4 linked regions of the Homo sapiens genome follow. The protein of the gene in region 3 interacts with the protein of the main gene of each other region in a biochemical or structural test. Each region holds a gene or a part of one and is shown on either strand. Other genes may lie near its edges.

The links.
Region 1: the proteins of UBE2E3 (region 3) and NEDD4L form a complex in vitro, tested with the Homo sapiens proteins (3 studies listed by BioGRID).
Region 2: the proteins of UBE2E3 (region 3) and RNF25 form a complex in vitro, tested with the Homo sapiens proteins (2 studies listed by BioGRID, with this or other methods).
Region 4: the proteins of UBE2E3 (region 3) and RC3H2 form a complex in vitro, tested with the Homo sapiens proteins (one study listed by BioGRID).

Annotation. Positions count from the first base shown.
Region 1 is NC_000018.10:58,047,185-58,054,632, reverse strand, and holds part of NEDD4L (E3 ubiquitin-protein ligase NEDD4-like), read right to left. Parts: intron 7,408-7,448; exon of another isoform or gene 7,123-7,407; intron 1-7,122. UniProt on the Homo sapiens protein: E3 ubiquitin-protein ligase that mediates the polyubiquitination of lysine and cysteine residues on target proteins and is thereby implicated in the regulation of various signaling pathways including autophagy, innate immunity or DNA repair.
Region 2 is NC_000002.12:218,668,945-218,676,798, forward strand, and holds the start of RNF25 (E3 ubiquitin-protein ligase RNF25), read right to left. Parts: upstream 3,059-7,854; 5' UTR 3,027-3,058; coding exon 2,986-3,026; exon of another isoform or gene 2,915-2,985; intron 1-2,914. Other genes in the region: STK36 (serine/threonine-protein kinase 36), read left to right, coding at 3,886-3,969, 4,681-4,821, 4,935-5,012, 6,399-6,529, 7,085-7,334. UniProt on the Homo sapiens protein: E3 ubiquitin-protein ligase that plays a key role in the RNF14-RNF25 translation quality control pathway, a pathway that takes place when a ribosome has stalled during translation, and which promotes ubiquitination and degradation of translation factors on stalled ribosomes.
Region 3 is NC_000002.12:181,053,381-181,060,828, forward strand, and holds part of UBE2E3 (ubiquitin-conjugating enzyme E2 E3), read left to right. Parts: intron 1-4,312; coding exon 4,313-4,445; intron 4,446-7,284; coding exon 7,285-7,432; intron 7,433-7,448. UniProt on the Homo sapiens protein: Accepts ubiquitin from the E1 complex and catalyzes its covalent attachment to other proteins. In vitro catalyzes 'Lys-11'- and 'Lys-48'-, as well as 'Lys-63'-linked polyubiquitination.
Region 4 is NC_000009.12:122,902,181-122,909,549, forward strand, and holds the start of RC3H2 (roquin-2), read right to left. Parts: upstream 3,180-7,369; 5' UTR 2,930-3,179; intron 1-2,929. UniProt on the Homo sapiens protein: Post-transcriptional repressor of mRNAs containing a conserved stem loop motif, called constitutive decay element (CDE), which is often located in the 3'-UTR, as in HMGXB3, ICOS, IER3, NFKBID, NFKBIZ, PPP1R10, TNF and in many more mRNAs.

The sequences.
Region 1 (7,448 bases), on a different chromosome or scaffold from region 3:
TGAAATGATTCAGTCTTGCTTTTTCTTTTTCTTTTGAAATGAGGTCTCATTCTGTTGCCCAGACTCGAGTGCGGTGGTGCAATCATTACTCAGCGCATTCCTGAACCCCGGTGCTCAAATTATCTTTCCACCTGGGCCTCTCAAGTAGCTGGGACCACAGGCATGGGGTCTCACCATGTTGTACAGGCTTTGCTTTTCCTTTAAACCTTGCACTCCTTCCTCTACCCAAAACAAACTGGGCAAGATGAAGTCAGCATGATGAGGACACCCAAAGACAACTCACTTAATAACTGAGAAGGAAAAATAGAGACTAGCAAAGAAAGCAGAAGATTCTCCACAAAGTCCCATTCTTCAGGTTCTCAGGGTAGTTAGGAGATTCGTAAGTAAGTTTGTGGAGCCTGTCACGCTGTGGGACACAAACACATTTTTTCCCCATTACTAAATAGTACTGAGTGCTTACTAAGCAAAGTAATTCTCTAAATAGATTAGGGTTACTTGCATTTTCTGAAAAACCAAAGTAACTTCCAGCATTAAGAAAAAAAGAACTTATACATGTAAATAAAACCCATTCAACACGAACATCTTCAATTAAACAAGAAAAATTAATAGAAAGGGTCTTCATCTCCTACATTACCTCTGACCCAAAGTCTGCCCTCACCGGCCTCCTCACATTAGTGACATCCAACACTCACTTGCCAAAACATAAAACTAAAACTTAACATCACATAGGTCAGGTAAAAGAAATGATTGGCTTTGCATTTTCCAACATTCATTCATAACAGATGTTCAAAGGGGACAACTCAGTGCAACCTCCGGTCAGCTAGGGCAGTGTTGGCCATGGTTCCCAAGTGCACTTCTCAGTATTACAACAATCTCAGCATTTACCCACAATGGGAATTCCAGCTTTACAACACACTTTTAAATATACATTATAAGACATGATCCAAAACTGCACCCAAGAGACGAAGAGCTAAACCTTGAGTCAGGTTGGAAACTGGAAATTAATTAGAATGTAAAAATTGTTGGCCGGGCACGGTGGCTCATGCCTGTAATCCCAGCACTTTGGGAGGCCGAGGCAGGTGGATCACAAGGTCAGGAGTTCGAGACCATCCTGCCTAACATGGTGAAACCCCGTCTCTACTAAAAATACAAAAAAATTAGCCGGGCGTGGTGGTGGGCACCTGTAGTCCCAGCTACTTGGGAGGCTGAGGCAGGCGAATGGCGTGAACCCGGGAGGCAGAGCTTGCAGTGAGCCGAGATTGCACCACTGCACTCCAGCCTGGGCGACAGAGTGAGACTCCATCTGGAAAGAAAAAAAAAAAATTGTTAACACAGGCAAGACCAGGAGCTGGAGATGCAAATCAGGCCCTTGTCACTGCACTTCTGGATCCCCTCAAAACAGGGAACACGGTCTCTGCCTGGTAGACAGGAGATGGAAACATGCCGGAGCCACTCAAGCAATCCATCTACATGTCACTTCAGTGTGCCTGGGAAACCATTGGTCCACTGCAGCCCAAACAAACAAAGTGACAGGTGATGGGACATCACCCAAACCAGCAAGAGGACAGTTCCCTTGGTTTGTTCATCCTCTTCATGGGACCACCATCCTTACAAGCCTTTCCAAGTTCCACCTTCACAGAACAGGTTTCACATCACAGCTTTTTTTTGAGACAAAGTCTCACTCTGTCACCCAGGGTGGAGTGCAGAGTTGCAATCTCAGCTCACCACAACCTCCATCTCCCAGGTTCAAGCGATTCTCCTGCTTCAGCCTCCCAAGTAGCTGGGATTACAGGGGCACGCCACGACGCCCAGCTAATTTTTGTATTTTTAGTAGAAACGGGGTTTTGCCATGTTGGTCAGGCTGGTCTTGAACTCCTGGCCTGAAGTGATCTGCCTGCCCTGGCCTCCCAAAGTGCTAGGATTATAGGCATGAGCCACCATGGGTGGCCACATCATAGCTTTTTAAACTTAAAAAAAAAAAAAAAGAAAAACTCACTTTTGAATGGCCCTTTTCTTTTGGTGAATAGGAGGTATAAAAAGAATACAAAATCTCTTGGTAGATGTCTGCCTGCCAAGAAGTCACCAAACACTGAATTTGATGACAGCAAGGGAATCTGAGAGCCTTGACATTTAACTTGGTGCGTTTTGAATCAATGCAGGACTGAAGTCAGGGACAAAAAGTTGACTGGAGTGTCAAATTTAAGCTAGTTACCCCAGATACACTTATATAATAAGGCTTTTCTCACCTAAAGGGATTACAATAATCAGCACTCCAGTTCAAAACAAAATATTACAATCATAGTGAGATTCTATTATTCATGAAACAAGAGGCCCAGATCTTTACATCGCCAACCACCAAACGCCCTGCTACAACTTCAGCCACGGTCTTGCATCAGGAATCAAGAATGTCTCTGCTAATCAAACACCAGTAGTTGTGATAATTATCAGCTCCTTCTCAGAGTAACAGAAAGTTACAGAAGGGTCCACACAGCAGAACTAGGACTATTTAGAAAGTCTCTACTAAATCTAAATCTAGTTTCTAGTTTTCTAAATCTAGTTTTTTTTATTCTCAACTCTAAATTATGCTATCATTTCCATATTCCAGCAACAAGCAACACCCGAGCCAACAGTAACATTAAACAGTGAACAGCACAAACATTGCCACCTATAGTCTGAAAATGAAATACATTTGAAATACAGTTGTGACCTGGAAGAGAAACAATGTAAAAACAGAAAGTAACATTTTGTCACACTTCTTCCACCCTTCTTTAATCCTCCTGCCCTGATACTTATTACCATTATATTATTTATATATTATTCTAATCCTCCTTAGCATGGACTACCAAAAGATCAACATATAGTTTGCTTTATCGCTAATTAACAAATATTTCAGTAAGACAGACCCACTTATTCAAATACCTGCAACATCAAAAAGCTTGAAAACTCTTAAGTTAGGATCTCTTTTTTTCACTGCTGCTACTCATCTAAGACTGGAAATTCAAGGGCAACAATAAAATCTGTTTAATGCAGATCTTGTAACTCAAAATAAAAAATTTAATTGGCTCTTAATCTATCACACATTGCCATGTTTTCATGATGCCATTTTAAACACCGCACAAGCAAACAGGTTATTAAATTAGCAATGGGCATAGTTGCTTCCTTTTGAAATGAATGCAAAAGTAATTTAGCAGAAACTCCAATGTACTGCTGCAATAATGTCACACTCAATCATTCTTAATATTTTTAAACAGTTTTATTCAGATGTAATTCATACACAACACAATTCATCCATTTGAAGGGTACAAAACTCAATGACTTTTAATATGTTGGGAGTTCTTCTTTGGGGTGATCTTTGTTTGTTTGCCTTTGTTTTCTGAGACAGTGTCTTGCTCTGTCACCCAGGCTGGAGTGCAGTGGCATGATCATGGCTCACTGCAGCCTCAACCTCCCAGGCTCAAGCCATCCTCCCACCTCAGCCTCCCCAGCAGCCAGGACCACAGGTGCGTGCCACAACACGCAACTAAGTTTTTGTATTTTTTGTAGAGGTGGGGTTTCACCACATTGCCCAGGCTGGTGTCAAACTCCTGGGCTCAAGCAATCTGTCCACCTCGGCCCCCCAAGATTATTCACTTTTCTTGGGAAAATATACCAGATATATTGAGGTACTCCAGAATCCCAAAACAAACTTTCCCAAGTAAGCTTCCTGGTGATGTGGGCACACACTGCATTGAAGAAATGCCTGAGTACCATGCAATGGTTTTCATTTGAATTGCATTCTGTAATGGTAAAGAAACTACAGTCATCTGAGGATCACCATTTGTCACTGTCCTCACCCTTTAAGCAAAACTATTACTATTCTTTTTTTATTTTTTATTTTTAGTTTTGCTCTTGTTGCCCAGGCTGGAGCACAATGGCCCGAACTTGTCTCACTGCAACCTCTGCCTCCCAGGTTCAAGCAATTCTCCTGCCTCAGCCTCCCGAGTAACTGGGATTACAGTTGCCTGCCACCAAGCCCAGCTAATTTTTGTATTTTTAGTAAAGACGGAGTTTCACCATGTTGGCCAGGCTGGTCTCAAACTCCTGACCTCAGGTGATCCTCCAGCCTCGGCCTCCCAAAGTGCTGGGATTACGGGCATGAGCCACTGCCCCAGCCTGTTATTATTGTGACAGAGTCTCACTCTGTCACCCAGTCTGGAGTGCAGTGGTGCGATCTCGGCTCACTGCAATCTCTGCCTTCAGGGTTCAAGCTATTCTCCTGCCTCAGCCTCCAGAGTAGCTGGGATTACAGGTGTCCACCACCACACCCAGCTGATTTTTTTTTCATTTATTTATTTATTTATTTTGTAGAGACAGGGTTTCACCATGTTGGCTGGGCTGGTCTCAAACTCCTGACCTCAAGTGATCCACCAGCCTTGGCCTCCAACGTGCTGGGATTACAGATGTGAGCCACTATGTCTGGCCTGAGCAAAATTATTTTTATTCCTTAAATTAAGGAAACTGATGTTCAATAATGAAATAAACAATCATAACATTCTGATTTAATAAAACTAAATATAATGAAAATTCAAATGTCAATGTCTACAAATTCCACAGACACTACATCATTGAAGAAAATAAATTCTATTCATTAGTCTTTTTTTTTTTTTTTTTTTTTTTGGAGACAGGGTCTCACTCTGTCGCCCAGGCTAGAGTGCAGTGGCATGATCTTGGCTCACTGCAACCTCTGCCTCCAGGTTTAAGTGATCCTTCCACCTCAGCCTCCCAAGTAGCTGGGACTACAGGCACGTGCCGCCATGTTTGGCTAACTTTTCTATTTTTTGTAGAGACGGGGTTTCACCACGTTGCCCAGCCTGGCCTCAAACTCCTGAACTCAAGTGATTCTCCTGCCTCGGCCTCCCAAAATGCTAGGATTACAGGAGTGATCACTGCACCCGGTCCCTATAATCAAATTTTAAAACAACATGTTATATTCATGAATTTTAAAAACTGATTTTAAATGTCACCATGAAAACTAGGTCCTTTTAACATTTGTTTCTCAAACATTACCTATATGTCCTGGGTATACAGTCTACCATCCAGCATCTAGGCCCGACACAGGCACTTGGACTTGGCATGACTGGGCAAGCCTTCTCTCTCTTCAGAAAACGGCCTGTCAGCATTCACCTTGAGATCCAAGCAAAATCTAAACCACAATTTTTGAAAGCAATCTTGTCCTCACCGTTTTGCACAGCTGCAAAGATGGCACATAGGGTTTCCCAAGTAATCTCTTGAAAATACACACAGGCCACTTTTTAAAAACTAACAACTATTCTTAATCACTTACAGACGGCCATCCAGTTGGCTATGATCTAGGCCCCCAGTTCCTTCTGTGCTAATGCCTATTTAAGAGCACTTCTCTTTTTCTAGCACTTTCCTCAAACACAGAAAAGCAGAAATCTGACTACTCGTTGACTTAAAAGTACTGAATGATTGGGGATATTGAAACTGATGGCATGGAGTTTTCCCAGGTTTCTAGTCACTGTAATTCATCAATTCTAAAATATCCTTTTTCTCATATTTCAACTTCTCTGAAATAAGGATGCTTCATAAGATGGACAGTATGTCATAACTTGACAGCAATTTTTTCTTCGTGGTACATGAAATAATGGCATATCTTAAAAGTGACAGCACACTAAAGTGAAAGAAATATGGCATCCACGCCAAAGGTTAGCCTTAAAGGTTTGTTATGAAGTGGATAATTATATGTAAACAAGTAGAAAGACCCCTAAGACAACAGAAAGTAGTGGTGACTGCAACCATAGCACAACTAGCTGCCACATCTCAAAGGACATAATGCCAGCCACTGACTGTAACTAGGTTAGAATGTGGCCCCAATTAAGCCAGATTTTTACCATTTTCATGAAATTTCCAAGCTTTAAAACACTCTAGAGACCACATTAAGCAGGGTTCCTGGTCAAATCGGGCCCAGCAGCCATCAGTTTGCAACCAGTGGTGTTTATTTCTCTTACATTATCTTAAATAATCTAGATAGTAAGACCTTTCAAGGCATTTGTCAGAAGGGGAGGATATTCAGCATGTTAAAAACTAGGCCTTTCTATTCAAAATAGCTGGCTCCATAACTTAACTTGTTTTGTGTCCTTATGCAGGTCACGTAACCTCTTTGAGCTTTCATTCCTCATCTGTAAATCACAGCCTACCTCACACAGTTCTCATGAGAACTAAATGACATAGTATGTGCACAAGGCTTAGCACTTTGCTCTCATGGCGCATCTTAAAAGTGACAGCATCTTAAACTGAAAAGCATACAGGATCCATGCCAAAAGTTAACCTTAATGGTTGATTAAGAAGTAGATAATTATATGTAAATGAGTAGAAAGACCCCCAAGCCAGCAGGGAGCCGTGGTGACTGGCACCTATAAGCAGATCTGCCACATCTCAAAGGACATAATGCAAGCCACTGATTGTGACTAGGCTAGAATGTGGCCCCAATTAAGCCGGATTTTTACCATTGGTATAGAAGAGGCATTCAAAAGTAGCCAACTATCCGTGTTTGTACAGGATAAGGAGAGAAGGTGCCATTTATCCTATGTCAGCCTGGCCTTCATTTCTATGCCATTTGCTTCATTTTAACTACTAACGAAATTACTTAATGTCATATCTAATGTGATAAGAAGCTGCCATTCAATCCCAGTATTTTGTTCAGTAGAAAAATCTTTTCAATAAATGATACCTTTCTAAAATGGAATAAAAGATTTCAGAAAGTTAGCGGTAACATTCATAAGTAAACTATGCCAAAATGCACTACAGATTGCCAAAAATAAAGAAATAAAACAAGAAATCCACAAGGACTCAAGCCAGATGCAGAAACTAGTCCAAAGTGTTCTGATTCCAAACCAAATCTGATCTTGGGCCATGAATCAGAAGTTTTGTTAAACTGCTAATCCCTCTAACACCAAAAGTCCTTCATCTGATGGTTTTGAATCTGGCTACCTAAAGTGACATGACTTAAATCAGGGTAAATATGAATTATAACTCACCAGAGAAACCTCCGCCCGAAACACACAGAAAAAATTAAACAGCACATACATTCACACAAGCAAAGCCCACATCTCAACCCCTTACCTTCTACAAAGTGGACAGACCTCTGCTGATGACGCAAGGAACAGCACCTAAGCCCTGTGCTTTGGCATCCCCGTTTTCTGGGTTCATGCAATGCTTCATCATCAGCAGTGCAGAGAGCTCAACAGTCTTTATGAGATGGGACATAACTAAGTGCACTCCAAACATACCATGCTTTTCAACAATCTCAAATCAAAATACGAATCTACTTTTAAGAAATGTGGTAGGTATGTGTGTCTACTTTGCTAAAAGATTTATGAGGTCACTCTTCTAAATAGCGGTCAAAATATCTTCATATGTGATATTCTGCAGCACACCAAGTCTGCAAA
Region 2 (7,854 bases), about 38 Mb from region 3:
AGGTAGAACTAGGCCCAGAGCCAGGTTTCCTGACTCCCTGTTTAAGTTTCATTCCCCTTAGTGGCTGAATCTCTGGTCTAGAGATATGGCACTCATTCATTAGCATTAACGTTACCAATATTACTCCAACCTTTCCCTACGTCACTGTCCAGTGTGGATCCCAGTGCCTTGGCTACTGTCTACATACAGTTTTAACACCAGTCACCCTAAGCCTTCTTAAAGGAGATAGCAACCTCAACACAACATATTTAGGGTGGTATAAAGGCTGTGTTGTAATGGAAGAGCCAGCAGCCTCGGAGTTAGTTAACAGGTACCAATCACTTACAAGCTATGCAATCTGGGACGTGACCTCTCTGTAAGCTTAAGTTATCCTGTCTGTCACATATAGATAATAACACCTACTCTCTAGGGTTATTGTGAGGATAAAAGGTGATTTGTTTACATAAAGTACCTAATAGTATCTGGGCTATCGTAGCTAGTCTACGTCCTCTTTTTTTCCTGTCTGTATATAACCTTCTCCCTTAGAAGGAAAGAGGGAAGGAAGGAGGTAATAGAGTACTCTGGATGTATTTATGACCTGGCTGTCTGGTTGATCTAGATCAGCCTGTTGAGGTTAGGATCCATGGTTCTGATGTAAATCAAGGGACACACATACTTAAGCATAGAAACAGCAGTTGTAATGAAATTGAAGCTGAGTGATCAGTTTGTGTCTACAGCTCTACCAAGTGATACATGGAAAAATGCACACTTTGCTTTCTCACACTGCTCCCTCTTCATTCTAAGAGTAAGGCTGCCCCAGCACGACCTATGTCAGTGTTGTTAAGTCTTAGGCAGAAACTTCAAAATATAAAATATAAAGCTTCACACCTCACAGATAACAGTGTAGTTCTGGCTGACATGGGAGTGGGAGTCTCACAGTACTACAGGCTGCTGCACTCATTGTTGCTGTCTCCATGGCTCAAGGTGTCTCCCCTGAATCTTAAAAGTTCCCCTGAACAGGTAAACTGTAAGTTATCCCAGCGCTTTGGGAGGCTGAGGTGGGAGGATCACTTGAGGCCAGGAGTTCGAGACCAGCCTGGGCAACAAAGCGAGACACTATCTCTACAAAAAATAAAAAATTAACTGGACACGGTGGTCCCAGCTACTTGGGAGACTGAGGCAGAAGAATCACGGGAGCCCAGGAGGTCGAGGCTGTAGTGAGCCATGATCTTGCCACTGTACTCCAGCCTGGGTGACAAAGTAAGACTCTGTCTCTTAAAAAAAAAAAAAAAAAAGAAGTTTCCCTGAACACTTTGAAAACCAGTAGTCTAGATACTCTTAATAACGGCCAGTACTAGCTGGGCTCCCTGAACCAATGTAACATTGAGGTGTAGCCTCAGTCAAGTGGCCCTTCAATACTTCGCCCACCCTAGTTATATGGGTCCTGGATGGGATGGTGGTAAGGTGGTGACAACAAAATGGGGGAGGGGGGCCGGGCGCGGTGGCTCAGGCCTGTAATCCCAGCACTTTGGGAGGCTGAGGCGGGTGGATCATGAAGTCAGGAGATAGAGACCATCCTGGCTAACAGGGTGAAACCCCGTCTCTACTAAAAATCACAAAAAATTAGCTGGGTGTGGTGGCGGGCGCCTGTAGTCCCAGCTACTCGGGAGGCTGAGGCAGGAGAATGGCATGAACCCGGGAGGCGGAGCTTGCAGTGAACCGAGATTGCGCCACTGCACTCCAGCCTGGGCGACAGAGCAAGACTCCGTCTCAAAAAAAAAAAAAAAAAAAAAAAAAATTGGGGGAGTGGGGACTGAAGAATGTCCTAGTACAAAGAATCTAAGGTGTGGAGTCAGACAGATATGGATTTCTATTCATAATTTTCTATCTTTTGGCAAATCACTTTACTTCTTTGGGACTCATCTAGTCTTCCCAGGTGCCTGCACCTCAGTTATTAATGAAAAGGAGGCCGGGTGTGGTGGCTCACGCCTGTAATTCCAGCACCTTGGGAGGCTGAGGTGGGAGGATCACTTGAACCCAGGGGTTCAAGACCAGTCTGGCCAACATGGCAAAACTCCGTCTCTACAAAAAATACAAAAATTAGCCAGGCATGGTGGCACACACCTGTAGTCTCAGCTACTCGGAAGGCTGAGGCAGAAGGATCACCTGAGCCTGGGGAGGTCGAGGCTGCAGTGAGCCGTAATCGCACCACCGCACTCCAGCGTGGGCGAGAGTGAGACTCTGTCTCAAAAAACAAAACAAAACAAAACAAAAAACAGACTTAAGTATATTACAAATCCGTCGTGATCCTCTCAACTATTCTGAGGTAAATGCCACACCCACTTTTTTTTTTTACAGCTGAGGACACTGACTCACAGAAGCTAGATGGCCTGTTCAGCATCACACAGCTAATAAAATGTGGAGTTAACCCACATTGATCCTACTTCCAAATCCCAGAGTCCTTCCATGTTCTAGTCTTTGGTTAAGAATGCTTGAGAGAAGGACTAGAGGGACTTTATATGAAGTGTAAAGCTTTATTCATACAATAGTCCTCACTAGTGCTGTGTGAGAGAGAGAAGGCTGAGGAAAGCGTCGGCGGAAAAAGGCTGATCCAAGGGGAAAGGGGGCCGGAACTGGAGGGCACTGGTTCTGAGAGGAGAAAGGGAGATGGGGAGGTCTGATGGGCAGGCATCCCCCAAAGCCCCTGAGAAAATTCATTTGAGGAGGAGAGAAAGGGATGGCGTGAAGCTGGAGGAAAAGGGATCGAACCGGATGCGGCGAGGCCTGAACTGGCCTGGCGGGCGCCGACCCGTTCTCCTCTCACTCAGATCAGCGCCCCTCCACCCTCCCGTTCCCCAGTCCAGCTTTCCCAGAGATGTCAGCATCTCTGCCATCCCTCATCCCTCGCTCCACCCCACACGCCCGCCGTACGGACCGTCTGCGACAGCTGCTAGGCCTCTGGACTAGATCCAGGCTGTCAGCCAAAGCCCATGCCCCCAAAGTTACCAGTCCTCCTCCCCTGCAGCTGCAGACGCAGACGCCGCCATATCTTCACCGGCCCGCAGCCGGAACCGGAAATGCCCTTAGGGAAGTCGGAGGCGGAAAACTAAGAGGGGTGGGCAGCTAGCGTCGTTTCTAGGCAACCGCAGACTCCGGGTCCTTAGCCGGGCCTGATGGCCCTGAGGCAGTTCGGATGTGTCCCAGGAAGTGCCCATGTGTGGTCCGCCGTCCATTCCACACCTCTGAGCGCCTTTGTCCTCTGAACTTCTCACCAGTTCTAGCGAGTAAAATTGTAAGAAAGGGAGCCGAAAGAGACCGGAGGGAGAGGCGGGTGGAGAAGAATTATAAGTCAGGCAACGTATGCAGGCAGCCAGAAGAGATGGGGCTAAACGCCAGGGAATCCGTCCCTTGGCCTGAGGAGCTTGGAGCTCCTAGGCTGGGGGTGAGAGAGGGGCTCTGGCCTGCGAAGCGCACGGGCCAGGGGGTCTGAGAGCGGGTGCTGAGGAGTCTGGGAGTGGCAGGAACTTGGGGGAGACTCAAAGGAGCAGGGTTGGTTGGGCGAGGCTAGGTTGAAAGAGTAGGGTCGAGTGAGCCAGGCTGGGTGAGGGAGAAGGGGAACCAGGTGTTAGTTGGGCATGGGGCCGGGTTGGGGACAGGAGGATGAAAGTGGGGAGGAACTACAAAGAGAAGCTCTGTTTGTTCCAAGAGCGCATCATCTTTGCATGCATTCCACCCTCCCATGTTTTTTGAGGCTTTATTGTGAAAAAGAGGAAAAGGCAAGGTGGCTAACATTTTTCCTTTCCCGTGCCCCAACTAGGCGTCCCAGATGTTGTGGAACTGTCCCTGGATCTATAGCTCTTCACCGTCTCTACTTTCTTCCTTCTAAGAGATCCTGAAACCTCTGTCATGGAAAAGTACCACGTGTTGGAGATGATTGGAGAAGGCTCTTTTGGGAGGGTGTACAAGGGTCGAAGAAAATACAGTGCTCAGGTGTTGCACAAAGAGGGATACCTTTTGGGTGGGATTTGGTACCCCCAACTCCAGTGGAAAATGGATCTAGAAGGAATGTATTTATACCAGTTTGTATTCCTAAGGTACTGACTCCCTCATACTTCTTATGGAGTATAAGCTTTGAAGTTGGATTATTTGGGTGCAAATTCCATCTCCACCGCTTTCTAGCCCTAGAATTATGGACAAATTACTTAACTTCCCTATGTCTCAATTTCCTTATCTCTAGAATGGGGATAAGAACAGCAACTGATTGATGGAGTTTGAGGATTAAATATGTTTTCACATTAAATCACTTAGTACAGTGCCTGGCTGTTAGTAAACAACAAATATTATTAGTCTCTAGCACACCATGTAATAAGAGGTAAACCACTTGAACTCTATTATTTCCTCTTCATTTTTTTTTTCCTTTCCTTTCTCCTAAATCTCATCTTGAGTGCTGGTCAAATCAGAACACTTCTTCCAGAAGGGGAAATGTTTTGCAGATGCTGTTTCCTCCTGGGATGAGGAATGGGGAAAGCCTGGATAAGGCCAGGGTACCATGGAGAAAATGGAAGCGGGAGACTAACAGAAATAATAAGAGTTACTCAAACACTCTAAAATCTGACTTCTGGAGCTCTGAGATTAAGGCTGAAATTCTAGATCTTTTCAGTAGTGTGATTAGGCGTTAACTTTTCACCTTACCACTGACAGGTCGTGGCCCTGAAGTTCATCCCAAAATTGGGGCGCTCAGAGAAGGAGCTGAGGAATTTGCAACGAGAGATTGAAATAATGCGGGGTCTGCGGCATCCCAACATTGTGCATATGCTTGACAGCTTTGAAACTGATAAAGAGGTGTGCTTTGACAGTTTTGGGCCCTGTCTCCCCAAGCACAAGGGTTCCAGGAATTTCCCAACCTCAGAATGCATGAATCTGGAGCCATCAGTGCCACTGCCTTCTCTCTGTAGGTGGTGGTGGTGACAGACTATGCTGAGGGAGAGCTCTTTCAGATCCTAGAAGATGACGGAAAACTTCCTGAAGACCAGGTATGCTTTCTGCCTTCAACTTCTCCCCACCTCCGACCTCTCTCCAGGTTAGAGAACTGGTAGAGCAAGCTAAGGACACTGAGAGTCTCCATTTCAAAGACTTCTGAGAAGAATATAAGAGTCTAGGTATATAGAGGCAGTGTAGTGTGGGAGTAAATTATGTAAACGTTGGAGTCAAAATATCTGAGCAGGAAGCTTGGCTCTGCTCCTTCCTAGCTGGGTCTCATTGGACAAGTTACTTTAATTTCTTTGTGCTTAGTTTCCTAATTTGTAAAATGGAGATAATAATCATGTTTGCCTGATAAGTCTATGATGAAGAGTGTTAAGTCATGTAATGTGTTTGAATAGTTAGCTATTATTAACATTATTGTTATTAGATACCTTTAGGGAAGAAGGGCCAGTGTAATGGTACCAGAAAGAGGGCAGTAAGAATAAAGGTTGTGGGGAGTCAGGATTTGGCACCAGGACGTAGTGGTTAGCAGTGGGATTTTGTTGCACATATCCTCCAGCCACATTTATTCTAGGCGTTTGTCTGTACCCAAGCAAGTAGGCCCCCCCTGGGATTCATTATTGCAGCATTCTCTTTCCTTCTGAGCACTCACCACTATTTGTAAGTAATCATATTTTTGAAATTATTTTATTTTTAATTGAATTTTATTTTTTGAGACAGAGTCTCGCTTTGTTGCCCAGGCTGGAGTGCAGTGGCACAATCTTGGCTCACAGCAAACTCCGCCTTCCAGGTTCAAGCAATTCTCGTGCCTCAGCCTCCCCAGTAACCAGGATTATAGCATGCGCCACCATGCCTAGCTAATTTTGTACTTTTAGTAGAGATGGGGTTTCACCATGCTGGCCAGGCTGGTCTCGAACTGCTGGCCTCAGGTGATCTGCCCGCCTCAGCCTCCCAAAGTGCTGGTATTACAGGTGTGAGCCACCACGCCCGACCACCATATTTGTTTTATCTGTCTTGTTTGTTTGTCTGACTACTTTTCTTGAAAAAAGGCATTTTGTCTTATTTAATAACAGGTAATGTGTATTGAATATTTACTATGTGCCAGGCACCATTCTGAGTATTATTTTGCATGCTTTAACTCAGTCCTCACAATAATCCTCCATGTAGATGGTGTTATTATATAGATTGTCACCTTAGTTTGCCCATGGTCAAGCAGATAGTAAATGAGATTCAATAAATTTTTCTTGAATGAATGAATGAGCAAATGAAAGAGTGATTAAACAAGGGGAACAATAACTAAGAAAGAATAGTGTGAAGCTCTGCAAGAAAGGGAAGGAAGAAAAGATTAGCAGTAATATTAAGAGAAATTTTTGGGCTTGTCAGCCAGCTGCTGTTTCTAACCTTTTTTTTCTTTCTTCCACCTCTTTAATTTCTAGGTTCAGGCCATTGCTGCCCAGTTGGTGTCAGCCCTGTACTATCTGCATTCCCACCGCATCCTACACCGAGATATGAAGCCTCAGAACATCCTCCTCGCCAAGGGTGGTGGCATCAAGCTCTGTGACTTTGGGTAAAGATTCTGAGCATCCATCTAAGCTTCCAGTTCCACACGGAATCTTTTTTTTTTTTTTTTTTTTTGAGATGGAGTTTCACTCTTGTTACCCAGGCTGAAGTGCAATGGTGCGATCTCCACTCACCACAACCTCTGCCTCCCGGATTCAAGCAATTCTACTGCCTCAGCCTCCAGAGTAGCTGGGATTACAGGCATGTGCCACCATGCCTGGCTAATTTTATATTTTTAGTAGAGATGGGGTTTCTCCATGTTGGTCAGGCTGGTCTCGAACTCCTGACCTCAGGTGATCTGCCCACCTCGGCCTCCCAAAGTGCTGGGATTACAGGCATGAGCCACTGAGCCTGGCCCCACAGGGAATCTTAGACCATACTCTTGACTTATTTGGGCCTCATTTTAGAACCGGAGCTAGAGGCTGGGACTGCTGCTGGGTCTTCTGGAACCTAATCAAAGGTGCTCCCTCTGCTCCGGTTTGGGATATCTCTATGTTAGGTAGTAGTGACCAGGTTTAGAATATCTTTTCCCTTTCCATTTCCATCCCATTATCTTCTGCAGATTTGCCCGGGCTATGAGCACCAATACAATGGTGCTGACATCCATCAAAGGCACACCACTCTATATGTCTCCAGAGCTGGTGGAGGAGCGACCATACGACCACACAGCGGACCTCTGGTCTGTTGGCTGCATACTATATGAACTGGCAGTAGGCACCCCTCCCTTCTATGCTACAAGCATCTTTCAGCTGGTCAGCCTCATTCTCAAGGACCCTGTGCGCTGGCCCTCAACCATCAGTCCCTGCTTTAAGGTAATGAATATTGAAAGGGAGATGACTTTTACATTAGAAATCTGTCTCCCTCTATCTCTGTTCCTTTTTCCAAATCCTTTTCCAGAGCTGAGGCGGGACTTTGCAGTTACTGAATTAATGGCTGTGTTATTCTGTTCTCGCATTGCTATACAGAACCACCTGAGACTGGGTATTTTATAAAGAAAAGAGGTTTAATTGGCTCACAGCTCCATAGCCTGTACAGGAAGGATGGCTGGGGAAGCCTCAGGAAACTTACAATCATGACGGAAAGCAAAGGGGAAACAGGCATGTCTTACGTGGTGGACCAGGAGGAAGATAGAGAAAGGAAAGGTGCTACACGCTTTTTTTTTTTTTTTGAGACACAGTTTTTTTTTCTTTTTTTTTTTTTGAGACAGAGTCTCGCTCTGTCACCCAGGCTGGAGTGTAGTGGCGTGATCTTGGCTCACTGCAAGCTCTGCCTTGCAGGTTCACACCATTCTCCTGCCTCAGCCTCCTGAGTAGCTGGGATTACAGGTGCCCA
Region 3 (7,448 bases):
TCAAGTTCCAAAATACCTGATTTCAGAACAAATTTTTGGAACATACTCGTTTATAAAAGTTAGTAACTCTTTTTATAAACCATTACTTACAGAAACATTGACCTCTTATTTTAATATATAAATATTTGCTTGTTCTAAAATTTATTTGTATTTTTTAAATTAATAGCTTTTTCTGGGCAGTTTTAGGTTCATAGCAAAATTGAGTGAAAACCCCTTGTATCTCTGCCCCTGCACAGACACACAACCACCCCTGCTATTATTGTCCCACACTACAGTGGTATAGTTGTTACATTCCAATCGATAAACCTACATTAACACATCATTATCATGCAAAGTCCCTAGTTTTCATATGGGTTCACTCTTGATGTTGTACATTTTATGGATTTTTACACATATATAGTGACATATCCGCCATTCATACCATACAGAAAAGTTCACTCCCTTACAGATCCTCCGTGCTGTGCCTCTTCATCCCTTCCACCCCACTAACCCCTGGCAACCACTGATATTTTTACTGTTTCTGTAGTTTTGCCTCCAGAATGTCATATAGATGGAGTCATACAGTATGTAGCCTTTTCATATTGGGTTCTCCCACTTACTAATATGCATTTAAGTTTCATCCATATCTTTTCATGGCTTGATAGCTCATTTCTTTTTAGCACCGAATAATATTTCGTTGTCTGGAGGTACCACAGTTTATATATCCATTCACCTACTGAAGTAACATCTTGATCACCTTCAAGATTTGGCAGTTATGAATCAAGCTGCTATTCACATCTGCATGCAGAATTTTGTGTGGACATAAGTTTTCAGTTCATTTGAGTAAATACCCAGGAGTGTGATTACTGGATCTTATGGTAAGATATGTTTATGTTTGTAACAAGATTGCCAAACTGTCTTCCAAAGTGGACATCCAGATGCATAAAAATGAATCTAGATATTTTGCATTTCCTGTACCATTTTGTATTCTCCACTAGCAATGGATGAGAGTTCCTGTTACTCCACATTTTCTTCAGCATTTGTTGTTGGTGTTTTGGATTTGGGCCATTCTAATAGGTGTGTAGTGGCATGCTTTTCTTGTTTTAACTTGAAATTCCCTAATGACATGAGTTTGAACAGTTTTTCATACGCTTACTTGCCATCTGTTTATCTTTGGTGTGAGGTATCTGTTCAGGTATTTCACCCATTTTATAATCAGGTTGTTCATTTTCTTTAGTTTTAATGGTTCATCGTATATTTTTGATAACAGTTCTTTATCAGGTACATCTTTTGCAAATATTTTCTCCAAGACTGTTGCCTGCCTTGTTCTCTTGACATTGTCTTGCAGAGCAAAAAAAATCTAGGCTGCAGTTACAGATTTGGAAGTTAAGAGCATATTGGTGGTATTGGGAGCCGTAAAACTGCATAAGATAACCAAAACAGTATATGTAGGTAGAAAAGAGAAGAGTGTAAGGTCTTAGCTCTGGAGGACTGGTGATATTTAAAGCTTAGGGTGATAAGGAATAGGAATAGAGAGTGAGAACGAGGGGCCAGGAAATGTAGGAAAGCTAACAAAGTATGTTATTCTAGGAATGAAAGAGAAAGTGTATCAAGGAGGATGTGATTGGCTGTGTCAAATGTTGCTGGACCAGTCAAATAATATGAAGATTGAGAAATGATCATTGGGTGTAGTGATGAGGTCATTGGTGACTTTGGATAAGAGCTGTTTCAGTGGAGTAATGGGAGGAAATGCCTGTTGGGAATGAGTTCAAGTAACAACAGAGGAGAGAAACTGAAGATAGCAGATGTAGATAAGATTTCCAAGGAGTTTTGCTGTCAAGGAAAGATGATTGAGATGGAAACTCGAAGGGAGAGAGAAATAGAGATTTTAAAAAATAATAATAAAGTTGGGAGAAAGGGCATTGTTGGATTCTTATTGGCATCACTCACCAGAGAAGGAAAAATGGATGATGATTCAAGACAGTGGAAGAGACAGAGAGTGTCGGTCAGTTGCTAGCCTCTAATATGATTTGTTTAAATTACAGTGGACTCAGCCCTGCAACTGCTCATGTCCCTTCCTGACCCCTTCCCATCTTGCCGTATGTTTTGACTAACAGATGGTACATTTATGAGAATGAAAAGAGGCCCCTAATCCAGACAGGTAGCCAACACTACCTGGATTTTAGGACTGGATTTTAGCCTTCACTTGTCCTAAACTAGGTGTCTTTGGGTACAGCAAAGTAATCATACTACCATAGCTTCTCTGCTTAGTCTACTCCAAGACAATAGGAAAAGTTATTTACTATCCTGCAATAGTTAAATGTACACTTTGTCCTATAGTTAAATGTACACTTTGTCCGATGGCAAATAGCATGATAAGTGGGAAGAGAGCACATTTAAGAACTAAGAATTTGGTGTGGGAATCCAAGCTCTTCTATCAACTGGCAGTAAAATATATTTGAGGAGAGTTTAAGGCGTATGAGTCGTCTTACCAACAAGTAATTATGAGTTTAGATTTTATTTGAACTATCTCTCTTGTTTGTATTTTATAAAGTAATGGTGTGTTAAGCGCAGTGCACCAAAATGTAACTAAGACTTAGTAGCACCTAGGACTCAGATCTTGGTTTTTCTTACAACATTCGCACTGAAAGGAACCCTGGCTCTTTGGAAAAATGTTTGATTCCAAGGATGGGATTCCTTATGCCAAAGGAAGGAAATGCTTAAAAAAAAAAAAAAAAAAGATGCTAACATGTTGCAAGGATATAGGAGTCATTTTGAAAGGGTTCCCCATCAGCCAAATCTGCAATAATTTGGGTATCAAAATAATTAAAGTCAGTAATGACTTATAAAGCATTGGGAAAAAATGAGACCATACCAGTAATACTTCTGTACATACGTACAGGCAGGAGAAGAGGCTCAAGGGGTAACTGTTAAGTGTAGAGAAAGTTCTAGAATTGGAAAATCATGATTTTATTGCTGTAACAGAATACCTGAGACTGAGTAGGTTATAAGGAAAAGAGGTTTATTTGGTTCACCTGATGGGCATCTGCATCTGTTGAGGGCCTCAGGCTGCTTCAACTCACAGTGGAAAGGCAGGCATCAAGTGCAAAGAGATCACAAAGCAAGAGGAAGCAAGAGAGAGAAACCAAGGAAAGCCACTCTTTTTAACAATGAGTTCTCTTGGGAACTAATTCATTCTTGCTAGAGTGAGGACTCACCCCTGAGGGAGGGCATTAATTTATTCATGAGGGATCTACCCCTCTGACCCAGACACTTCCCAACATTGCCGCGTTTGGGGGTCAGATTTCAACTTGAGTTTTAGCAGGGACAGATCAAACCATAGCAATCACAAATGGATGCTAAATCTTGGGAAGAAATTTTGATAAGAAGCAGGATATTTGCCTGGTCTTGAAGTGTCTGTCCAAATATTGCTTATTGGTTGCAGGGAAAAGATAGTAACTAAGCAGTAGGAAAATTGGATAGCAGTTTGTCTGGATGATGAAACTTAACATCACCAATGAGGTACAGGTAGGTGCTGTGTGCCTCCAAATGTGATACCATGAGAAGGACACATACTATTTCAGCCAGACACCTACTATTTCAGCCAGAAATGCGTTACATGAATCAAATCATGAGGAAACATGGCAAGCTCAAAATGATGAGCATTTTTTAAAAAAGAAGACTAGATTCTGCAAAAAACGTTAATGTTATAAAAGTTAAAGAAAGGCGGAAAGGACCCATATTAAAGGAGAATAAAGACACAGGAAATAACGTGGTTCCAAGACTGGGTCCTGCATCGGAGAAAAATTAATTTTTTAAAAGGGTATTACCGAATCAGTTGACAACATTATAATACAAATTGTACTTTAAAGAATTGTATTAATGTATTTACTGAAATTGTAACTGTATTGTAATTTATAGGAGATTGTTTTTAGGAAATGCACACTGACATGTTTATGGGGAAAAGGCCGTGTGCAACTTTCAGGTGACTCAGAAAAAAGTATGTCTCTATGCATGCTTGCAGGTTTAGAGGGGTGTGTGTTTCGGGAGAGAGAGGAGCAAATGGGGCAGAGCAGAATGCTAATGGAGACTGGGTAAAGTTATACCAATTTTCTTTGTACTTTTCTTGCATTTCCTCTGTAAGTTTGTAATATTTCCAAGTAAGTTCATACACACATGCACATGCAAACACATTGGGGCTTATTTCTTTTATACTTATTTTACTTCTTATTGCTCTAGATTGCTAATTTACCTTTAACACTTCCCTGGTTTTAGGATATTAACATTCATTGCTAATATATGTACATACTGATTTTTAATTTCTTTTAAATAGTGCTGGGCCTAAAGGAGATAACATTTATGAATGGAGATCAACTATACTTGGTCCACCGGGTTCTGTATATGAAGGTGGTGTGTTTTTTCTGGATATCACATTTTCATCAGATTATCCATTTAAGCCACCAAAGGTAAGAAGCTTGAAGTGCATTCTTTAGTATTTAATCCTTCTCCTCTAAAATCGGTTATTCTAGAACTTAAATGTGTATTGATGCAGTTATTTTGATTTCATTGCTTTTCATGGATTGATATGGAAATTTTCGCATAATCAAGAATTTTAAAACAGTAATTGACTCCTTTCACAAATAATTTGTAATAAACAGAAAGAGTTTAATTCTTAATTGTAAATAAAACTATACCTTGCACATCAATAAAGCAGATAAATTTTATGCTTATGAGGGAGAAGATCCTATGAACCTTCATTAATACCTTAATTAATAATACCTTAATTAACTATTAAGGTATTAATGAAGGTATTAGGATAAAAAGTAAAACTGTTTGACAGCTTCCAGAAATAAGGGTTTAATAATGTGAATTTTGTGCTGAATACCTTTATAGATAAGCAAAAACTTCATAGCCAAGAAGAGGGAAACTAATAATATTTAGTAAACTCATTTTGTACCTTCTGTGGGTATGATGTAGTAGTGGAAGCAGAATGCCTGAGTTTTGTTGGCTCTGAGTTCATTTGAAGTATGAATTAGATGGATAACAGAGAACGGGGTGAGTTGTGCCTTCTAATGACCATCAACTTTGCAAAGCTTAAATATAACAATTACTTGAATGGCTCCCTCCGCTAACTTCTGTTTCTACAATGGTCAAGTCAGCAGGTAAAAACCACTGGAATTAAGCATGAGCATTATTATGCTGTTGTTACAGAGATGTCTGACATAGCAGGGGAAAGTGTATTTTCAAGTCCATAGCCCTTAACTATGGTGAAATGTTTTTCTTTTCCAACATGGTGACTTTTGTTCTCTGTACTTTTAAAAATTTATGTTGCAGTCTATACCATTTAAAATTTATGTAGCCTGTGTGTATATGTATATGTGCACATAAACGGATTTATTTTGTGAATAAAAGAGGGTTATTTCTCAGTAACTTATTGTCTAACAAGGTAACGAGTGCCATCTAGTGGTATTTACCCCAAACCGCAGACACCATTTACTCTCAATTACAGCTGTTAGTGTTTAAAGTGCTTTACCGTGTGGTCCCATCAGCATGTAAGATCTTGAAATTATTTTTGCATATGGGGAAGATTAATTGAAGAAAAAGACTCTTAAGTTTTCCTGGACACCTTTTAATGAAAAACAGAAATTGGCTAATATAAGAATTTCACACTATATAGTACTGTATATGATTTGCCGTAATTTTGATGAATATAATGATTATAAATTTAGCATGTTGGTTTTTTGCTGAAATTGCAATATATCATCTAATTCTTTAGTGTTCACTCTGTTGCTGAGATATACAGTATTAACCATTAAGATCTATAGTTGGACAAATGAAAAATAAGATTTCTGGTATAATCTTGGTATTTGGAACAATTATTTCTCTGCAATGCTAAATCTTTTTGAAGTTTGGAAAAGTTGAGCTTCTTGAAGGATAATAAATATTTAATAGAAATCTGCTCATGAATGCTATTCTGTTCACTAGTTATAGCTGAAAATATATTTGTAAATCACATATGTATTGAGCAGTAACGTCAGTGATCTGAACATAAATTATTTCTATATTCTAGAGCAGCATTAATGGAAATATAGTAAAATCTACATGTATAATTTTAAATTTTCTAATAGCCACATAAAACATAAAACAATTTTAATACTATATTAGTTAACCCAACATATTAAAAATATTGTCATTTCAACATGTAATCCGTGTAAGAGTATTGTTAATGAAATCTTACACATTTTCTTTTTGGTACTAACTCTTTGAAATCTGGTATTTATTTTACACTTCTAGTTCGTCTCAATTCACCTTGCCACAATTTAAGAGCTGTATATGCACATGTAACTAGTATATGCTGTATTGGTCAGAGCAGTTCTAGAGGGGCATACTCTCCTCCTCCCCCACTAAACTAGTGTGTTGGTCCCCTACCCCCTCCCTGTCATGCATTCTTTTCAGGAAGACACTTTTGAGAGCATTTAATGTTTTCCTCCCAGATTCAACTTTTGCGCTCACAGTACACTGCTAGTTTTCAAATGATCAGAAATTTTTTTTTTTCTCGGCAACTCCAATTATGAATTAGCTATCCAATTAGTGTTTGTGATTGTTTTGAGACTTGGCAGTGTTTGTTCTTATGATTTATCTTCTTTTCTCACACATTTCAGGGATATATTAGTTTCCTTTATCCAGTAGCTAAAAACCTTGTTTATTTTATTTTAATATTTTAGCCTAACAAGACAGTGAACCAGCTGTAGAAATAAAAGGCTAAGAAACAGAAAGGCAGGTAGTGTGAATGATTTTACCAACCGTCTTCTAAATCCTCCAGTATTTTCTAACGTTTGGTAAGAAATTAGCTGAATTGATACTGATCTTTTCTAGTAAGAAACTGATGTAACTTTTATGTTTTAAAAAAAAATCTTCATCAGTTCCTCTTACCTTCGGCACCAAAACATTTCTTTTCTTCCTCACTTTCTGTCTTTCTGTATGTATGTGTACACACACAGTTGTATATGCTGTGGATGTGTATGCAAACAGACGTACCCACACACATAGATGGAATTACTGTATCAGTTATTTAAGTATAACTGATCAGTTCCTCACTTTAGTTCTTTCTATACAGGGTAAAAACAAAAAATTTTTTTCAACTGAGTCAAAAGCATTTAATTTTGTTATTAAACCTAATCTAAGTTTAGCTCCAGTCAAATAATTTAGTATCATCTATGATATATTACCCTTCATTTTTTTTTAGTGTTTTAATTGGTAATACAGCATTCATTTTCCTTCTGTTTTTAATGTGACTGTGCTTAGGTTACTTTCCGCACCAGAATCTATCACTGCAACATCAACAGTCAGGGAGTCATCTGTCTGGACATCCTTAAAGACAACTGGAGTCCCGCTTTGACTATTTCAAAGGTTTTGCTGTCTATTTGTTCCCTTTTGACAGACTGCAACCCTGGTAAGCAAATCTTTAT
Region 4 (7,369 bases), on a different chromosome or scaffold from region 3:
TCAGCCTTCCAAAGTGCTGGGATTACAGGCGTGAGCCACCGCGCCCAGCCAACTTTCTATTTTAACAAGTATAACTAATATTAGTGATGACGAGAAAAATACTTTCTTTGAGATAGAACTTACTTCTGCCTATCAAATCATAGCCAATGGATAACTTCATCCTTCATATTACCAAAGTCCTTAGCTCTTTAATTATTCTGATTGTAACAGGATAATCTATCTGGAAGTTTTGGGTTTTTATACATCTACTTTTATTCCACTAACATATTTCTTGGAAGAGTAATGCTGATCTACAACAGTAATATCCGATAGAAATATGTGAGCCATTATAATCCGAGTAATTTTTAATTTTCTGGTAGTCACATTAAAAAAGGTTAAAAGAGGCTAGGCGTGGTGGCTCACGCCTGTAATCCCAGCACTTTGGGAGGCGGAGGCGGGAGGTGGGTGGATCACTTGAGGTCATGAGTTCCAGACCAGCCTGGTCAACATGGCAAAACCCCATCTCTACTAAAAATACAAAAATTAGCCTGGTGTAGTGGTGCCTTCCTGTAATCCCAACTACTCAGGAGTCTGAGGCATGAGAATTGCTTGAACCTGGAAGCAGAGGTTGCAGTGAACCCGAATGGTGCCACTGCACTCCAGCATGGGTGATAGAGAGAGACTGTCTCAAAAAAAAAAAAAAAAAAGTTAAAATAGCTAAAATTATTTTTAGTAATATATTTTATTTATCCCAGTTTATACAAAATATCATTTCAACATGTTGTCAATATTAAAATTACTGAGATATTAAAAAAAATCTTGGTACTAAGTCTTTGAAATCTGGTATTTTACACCTAAAGCACATCTCAATTCACAGAAGCCACATTTCAAATCTTCAACTGTCACATGTGGCCACTGGCTAGTACTGGACAGTGCAACTCTAGAATATTTAAATTATAAAGTAATACTTAGAACTTTTATCAGGAAATTGAGGTAAAACTCACACTTACACTTAAAGCTTTAGTAAAATTAGAGACGCTGATCATAACATTCATGAGACTGGATGCAAAACATGAACTTATTTTTAATTTTCAGCTAGCTTTATTTTACCCATGCTTCCTTTTTCCATCACTAAAAAGTGAAACTTCAACACGGTACAAACTAAACAGTAAGTAGTTACTAAAACCTTGTTATGAAGTTTTTTTTAGCGTTCTTAGCTATTGCAAACAATGTAGAAGTTCAACTTTTGAATATAAAATCCTGAGTGTAAAGAAGAATGCTTTGCCAAAATGCAAATTTTTGGTTTTTTCAAAGTGGAAGACAGCAAATTACAAAAGCAGAGTATGATTTAACAAAAATATATGAACAAAGGACGTAAGTCTTCTTACATGTCAGGTTACCACAACAGAAATAACAGATCAGGGGTAACTCAAAGGATCCACTAATGAACACGAGTGTAATTAAATCCTCATAGAACAAGTGCCTGTTTGAATTATAACATCTGCTTTTTCTAAACGTAACTAGAATATGTTTCACATTCTGTCCTCCTAGCAATTTTCCAAACTCTAAAATTTTGAAAACATTAATCTCCAAATCAACGAAAATGTCAATATTGAAAAGCAGTCTTTAACAGGATGTAACGACCTCTATTTCTTCAAAAATTGAACGTGGAAGTAAACAACGTAAGAAAGGCATGTGAAGCTACAACAGTGGTATAGCTTTTTAGACAGCTAAAAGGTTTTTTAAAAAGGAGAATCTATTAATATTCTTAATATCGTAAAAAGCTTTTAACTAAGTTTGTATGTTTAACCATTAAAAGGCTGCACTGGCTAACATTTGTTTCTTTGCTTTTGAGTGACTTTATACCACTGTGGTATAGCAACGTTAGCTTTCTCAGGTTAACCAAAAGTTCCTACTGGAACTTAAAAGTTTGGCCAATACAAAATTGGAAAAAAGATTACTTAAAGCACTTTATTTGGGATACAAACTCACCCACCCACAATGGGTAGGGGGAGAGTAGAAATGAAAAAAAGGAAGGCCGTGGGTAAGGGGAGAGGAGGAATTAAAAAGGGAACCCAAGGGTTATGAAAATATAAATAAATCACTGGATTAGATTTACTTTATGCCAGTGATTACTTGAGTCAATTTTGGTGTGAAGGATTTATCTGCCGGTATCTTAAACGGCTGCCTTGGGATTTGAAGGATGGAAATGACAGCTACCCTCATCTTCTCCCATCCTGAAAGCTAAGGATAGAAAAAAGTACAGCTGCTTCTCTGGGAAACAAAGATGCTTTCTACCATTCTTCTAAGATGGTGGAAGAGTCTCCTCAAGAGGCTACACCAAAAAGGAAAAATGAGAGAGGGAAAGAAGAAAGCCATAGCAGAATTTCCTGGCTGTGTTTCATGCCATTGCTCCTAGCCACAACCCCTGTGCAACCACTCAGGTCCGGCCGTCCCCATCCTGGGAGGTTAAGCCCTCCCAGGGCATTGTTTGGCCGGGGTTCCTATTTACCACTCAGATCGCCTCCACCACCCTCTACGCTAGGGTCTCGGGAAGCCCCAGGGCAGAAAGCTGAAAAGCTAGGAGAAGACTTGGTTTCGAGGACCTCTTCCAAACCCCCTTACTAACTGGTGTAGAAAAGGGAGAGTGAAGCCGGGCCTTTGCTTGGGTGGGTTCGTTAGGGGTCAGAGGCGTCCGCTCGGCCAGTGTCGAAGGAAGGTGGCCATTTGAGCCGGTCGCTCCGCATCGAAAAAGCCCTACCAGAGAGAGGGGCCTCCGCAGGGCCCGGGTTCCATCCGAGTGTCAGGTGCGGCCCTCAGTTCCCAACCCTCGAGGCACCAGGGGCGACAGCGCACAGGCCCCAGGGCTGAGACTGGTCTCCCGCCCGACCGCCGGGGACCAGGCACCCGGGCTGGGGCCCGAGCCGCATCGTGCCCGCCCCCGCCCTACCTGAGGGGGCCCGGGCGGGGTCGCTAAGGGCCGCTCCCGGGAGCCCCGCGACGGCGCGGCTTGGCGACGGAGGCGCCTCGTCTCGCCGGGGCAGAGCTCGGCGGAGGTTTCACGACCTCAAACTCCATCGGGAGCTACAGGGACAGCCCCGTTGGCGGCGGCGAAGGCCGCGACGGGGCCTCCTCCTCCTCCCTCCACCTCCGCCTCCTCCTCCTCCTCCTCCTCACCACGGAGGCGGACCTGGAGGGATCCCGATCTAGCTCTCGCGAGAAGTTACTCCCCACTTAACGCGAGATTACGCAAGCCCGGGAGTCGGGAGTTGGAAGGAAAGCGTAGTAGCCCCAGCCACCCAAACTGCGAATCAACTTCCCTCTGCCTCAGCGGATCCACCCCGATCACGTGACAAGGGAGCCCCGGAGCACTGTGGGAGGTACTGTGAGAAGGACTAGGCAAGCCGAAGGGATTGATGGGAAATTCCCTGCACATTCATCTGCGCCTTGAGCCGGCTTCCTAGACGCTGGTTTGAGCGAGTGTCTTAACTCCCTTCGTGAAAAGCGTGGAATCCATTGAGCAGAATCTGATACATCTGTGTCACATTCTTCTTCACACTCCTGTGATGACATGCCGACAGGATCCCTCAATCCCTTTACAAAGATGTCAAGTAATCTCCCCATTACAAAAACAAGAAGAAAACATGTATTTGGCAGGCACTTCCACATCTCACTTCTTTATTAAAGAGAAAACTCTGTTTCTAGACAAAGAGTCCAAAGTGGGGGGGGGAGGGGGGGAAGAAAGCTCTGAGCTCCTCAAAAGCTGGCAAAAATAAAAAATTTAAGCACAAATTCTGGCATCATATCTCAAATATTTGTTGAAGCTTTTTACACAGCGAACTAAGGTAAGAATTATTCTTACAGTTTATAATTTATAGATGAAACAGACTTGGAATAGGGATATCAGAATTAACATTTATAAACTACTTAGTATGTGTCAGGCAGGTCCTGTGTTAGGTGATATTTAATTTTAAATATTTTAGTTTTATTTACATTTCATTTAATTAGCAAAGTGATCCTAGAAGACAGATACAATGTACCCCTTGTTACTGATGAGAAACTAAAGAATGTAGGCTAGAAAATGACCATGACGCCGGGCGCGGTGGCTGATGCCTGTAATACCAGCACTTTGGGAGGCCGAAGCGGGTGGACCGCCAGGTCAGAAGTTAGAGACCAGTCTGGCCAACATAGTGAAACCCTGGCTCTACTAAAAATACAAAAATTAGCCGGGTGTGGTGGCGGGCACCTGTAATCCCAGCTACTCGGGGGGCTGAGGCAGGAGAATCACTTGAACCCGGGAGACGGAGGTTGCAGTGAGCCGAGACCGCGCCATTGCACTACAGCCAGGCGGGGGGGCAGTGCCAGACTCCGTCTCAACAAAAAAAAGAAGAAAAAAAATGACCATGACTTGTAATTAAACTCAAGGCACTTTCCAATGTGAAATCAGATGCCCAACAACAAAAATATCGAAGTAAACCTACGATAAATTAGAATATGGAAAGGTTGCTTCTACAGTTTTAACAAAATATATAGTTATTACCTATTATATTTGTCTGAATGACAGGCAAAAATCAGTGTTTTTGAAAAAAGATTCATTGGCCACATCGAAGACGTTTCTTCCACACATTATCTTTTTCGTTCTCTTCTCTTTATGAAACATATGCCAGGCCTAGAGAACTGTTAACAACCAATAATTGTTTCAGTAATTTCAACTGGACAGTGATAGGTAATTTACATGTACATATTTGTTTTCCACCCTACTGTGTATATATATATATACACACATATATACATATATGCACATATATACATATATACATACATATAAATATATATACACATATATAGATACATATAAGTATATATACACATATAAACATACACATTATATATACATATATGTACATATTTTTTTTTTTGAGACGGAGTCTCACTCTGTCACACAGGCTGGAGTGCAATGGTGTGATCTCAGCTCACTGCAACCTCCACCTCCTGGGTTCAAGGAATTCTCCTGCCTTAGCCTCCCCAGTAGCTGGAATTACAGGCACCCGTCATCATGCCCGGCTAAATTTCTTTTTTGTATTTTTGTAGAGACGGGTTTTCACCATGTTGGCCAGGCTGGTCTTGAACTCCTGACCTCAGAAGACCCGCCTGCCTCGGCCTCCAAAAGTGCTGGGATTGCAGGCGTGAGCCACCAGTCCAGGCCAAATTTTTCTATTCTACTGGATATATTTACATTTCACTAGACAGAAGAATATATATTTCTGATAATCCGAGATTTTTCAAAGGTGTCCTGGTCACCATATTTATTTTTGAGATGGGGTCTTGCTCCCTCAGTTAGGCTGACTGCAGCGGTGCGATATTGGCTTACTGCAACCTCTGCCTCCCAGGTTCAACGGATTCTCCTGTCTCAGACTCCCGAGTAGCTGGGATTACAGGCAAGCGCTACCATGCCCGGCTAATTTTTGTATTTTTAGTGAAGGGTTTTCATCAGGTTGGCCAGGCTTGTCTCAAACTCCTGACCTCAAGTGATCTGCCAGCCTCGGCCTCCCTAAGTGTTAGGATTACAGGCCTGAGCCTCGGCGCCCGGCGCTGACCACCATATTTAAAATTGCAATTCCATCCCCCTTCTCTGGTACTCCCTATTCCTGATTTTTCTCCAAATTCCTTCTCAAAATTTGACATACATGGATTTTACTTACTTGTTTACTGTTTGTCTCCCTTCACTAAGATGTTTCACAAGAGCAGGAATTTTTGTCTGTATACCTAACTTATATTTCATTGTAAGGACTCAGGAAGTATTTGCTAGATGAATGATTAATGTATAGTCAGGAGAAATTGTATCCTTTAAATTGTATCCTTTAAAATTCAAAGATGAAGACAAAACACATTGTTCTCCATTCCCACCTCCAGTTTATTATTTCTTATGTAAACATGTAAGATAGTTACATCCCAGGAAAAAGGGCAAGTGTTTTTCTCTGACAACGAAGTAACAACTACCTTTTCAAGATCTTTTATATGTAAATGGAGTAAATGAAGAGGCTGAACTCAAACACTTTTCATTTTTCTGTCATATCAGAAACATAAACTAAATGTGAATATGTTAAATGAATAAATTCTATACTTTGTCATACCTGAACTTTAAAAAAAGATTCCATTTTCCTGAAAATTTTTAGACATATCATGCAAACAGACACTCTCCTAGGAATGTTTGGAGATCATTCCGTGCTACTGAACAGGAATAAATAATATAAATAATAACCATCACTTTCACAAAACACCCCTCCCCCAGCAAAAATCTCAAAGTGCTCACAAAAAATTTTACAACAATCTTACAAGGCACACATAAAACTTAAACATAGTTTCAACCAATTTTTTTTCAAATATCCAAGATAGTAGATACTAATTCTTAAAAAATCAGAGTACTATTCTTTTACCCTCTCCTCCCATCTCCATCCTTCCCCCTTCCCCCCACGCCATTTTATAATAGGAAGCAAAAATAAGAAAAGTACTTCAATCACTAGTAAACTATTTCTGAAAAGAAAATATTTTCACACCAACAAATGGCCAATCTTAGGTCAAATGGAAGCAATGAACTATGAATGAAAAATTAGCAATGAGCTATCACACTTTCCAGTGGAAAAAGATCCACTAATTAGAAAAATTATGTCTCCAATGGAGTACTTAAGTAACAAAGTTCATAAAGACACAAAACCGTCCTCTCTTGCTTTCCCCTCTTCTGTTCTCAGGAAGAATTAAATACAAAATCATGGAATTTTAGACCTGGAAATGATCTTTCAAATGACCAAGATCAAAGTTATTTTACATATAAAGTTAAAAAGTTCAAGGAGAAATTCAGCACAATGTCGCTAACTAGTAACATTGGGTTATGAAGTCGGTTTTTTCATCAAACGAGACCTGCATTCTTGAAAGTCTCAAGGAAAGTTAAAATTCAGTGGAGAATGTCTTTCCCACAAAATTGTCAAAAAAAGGTTAACACTTATAACAACGAACATGTGATTCATTCATCACACAATTTTTATAAATGGTACAAAGTATATTACATTTTAAAATACAGAAGGGCTTCAATAGAAATTAAATACAGTAGAAATTCTACATAAAGCTAAGTTAACTAGAGGAGGACTAGAACAGCTTCAAAGAAAGATGCATCTAGTCAGTCTTCTTTACGAAAAGCAGTTCCTGTGTTTTAGAGAATATTATTTGCCCTGCAGTATATTTTAATCTTTGTTAAAATAATTTATAAAAGTTTTGTGTTATATGTAGACGGAGATGTTAGAGAACTATGGCTCAGAACACCATCTCAAATATGACTCTCGCTAAAATAATCATACAGTCATAGTTTTCCTTTTGGCATATTTTTGGAAATATA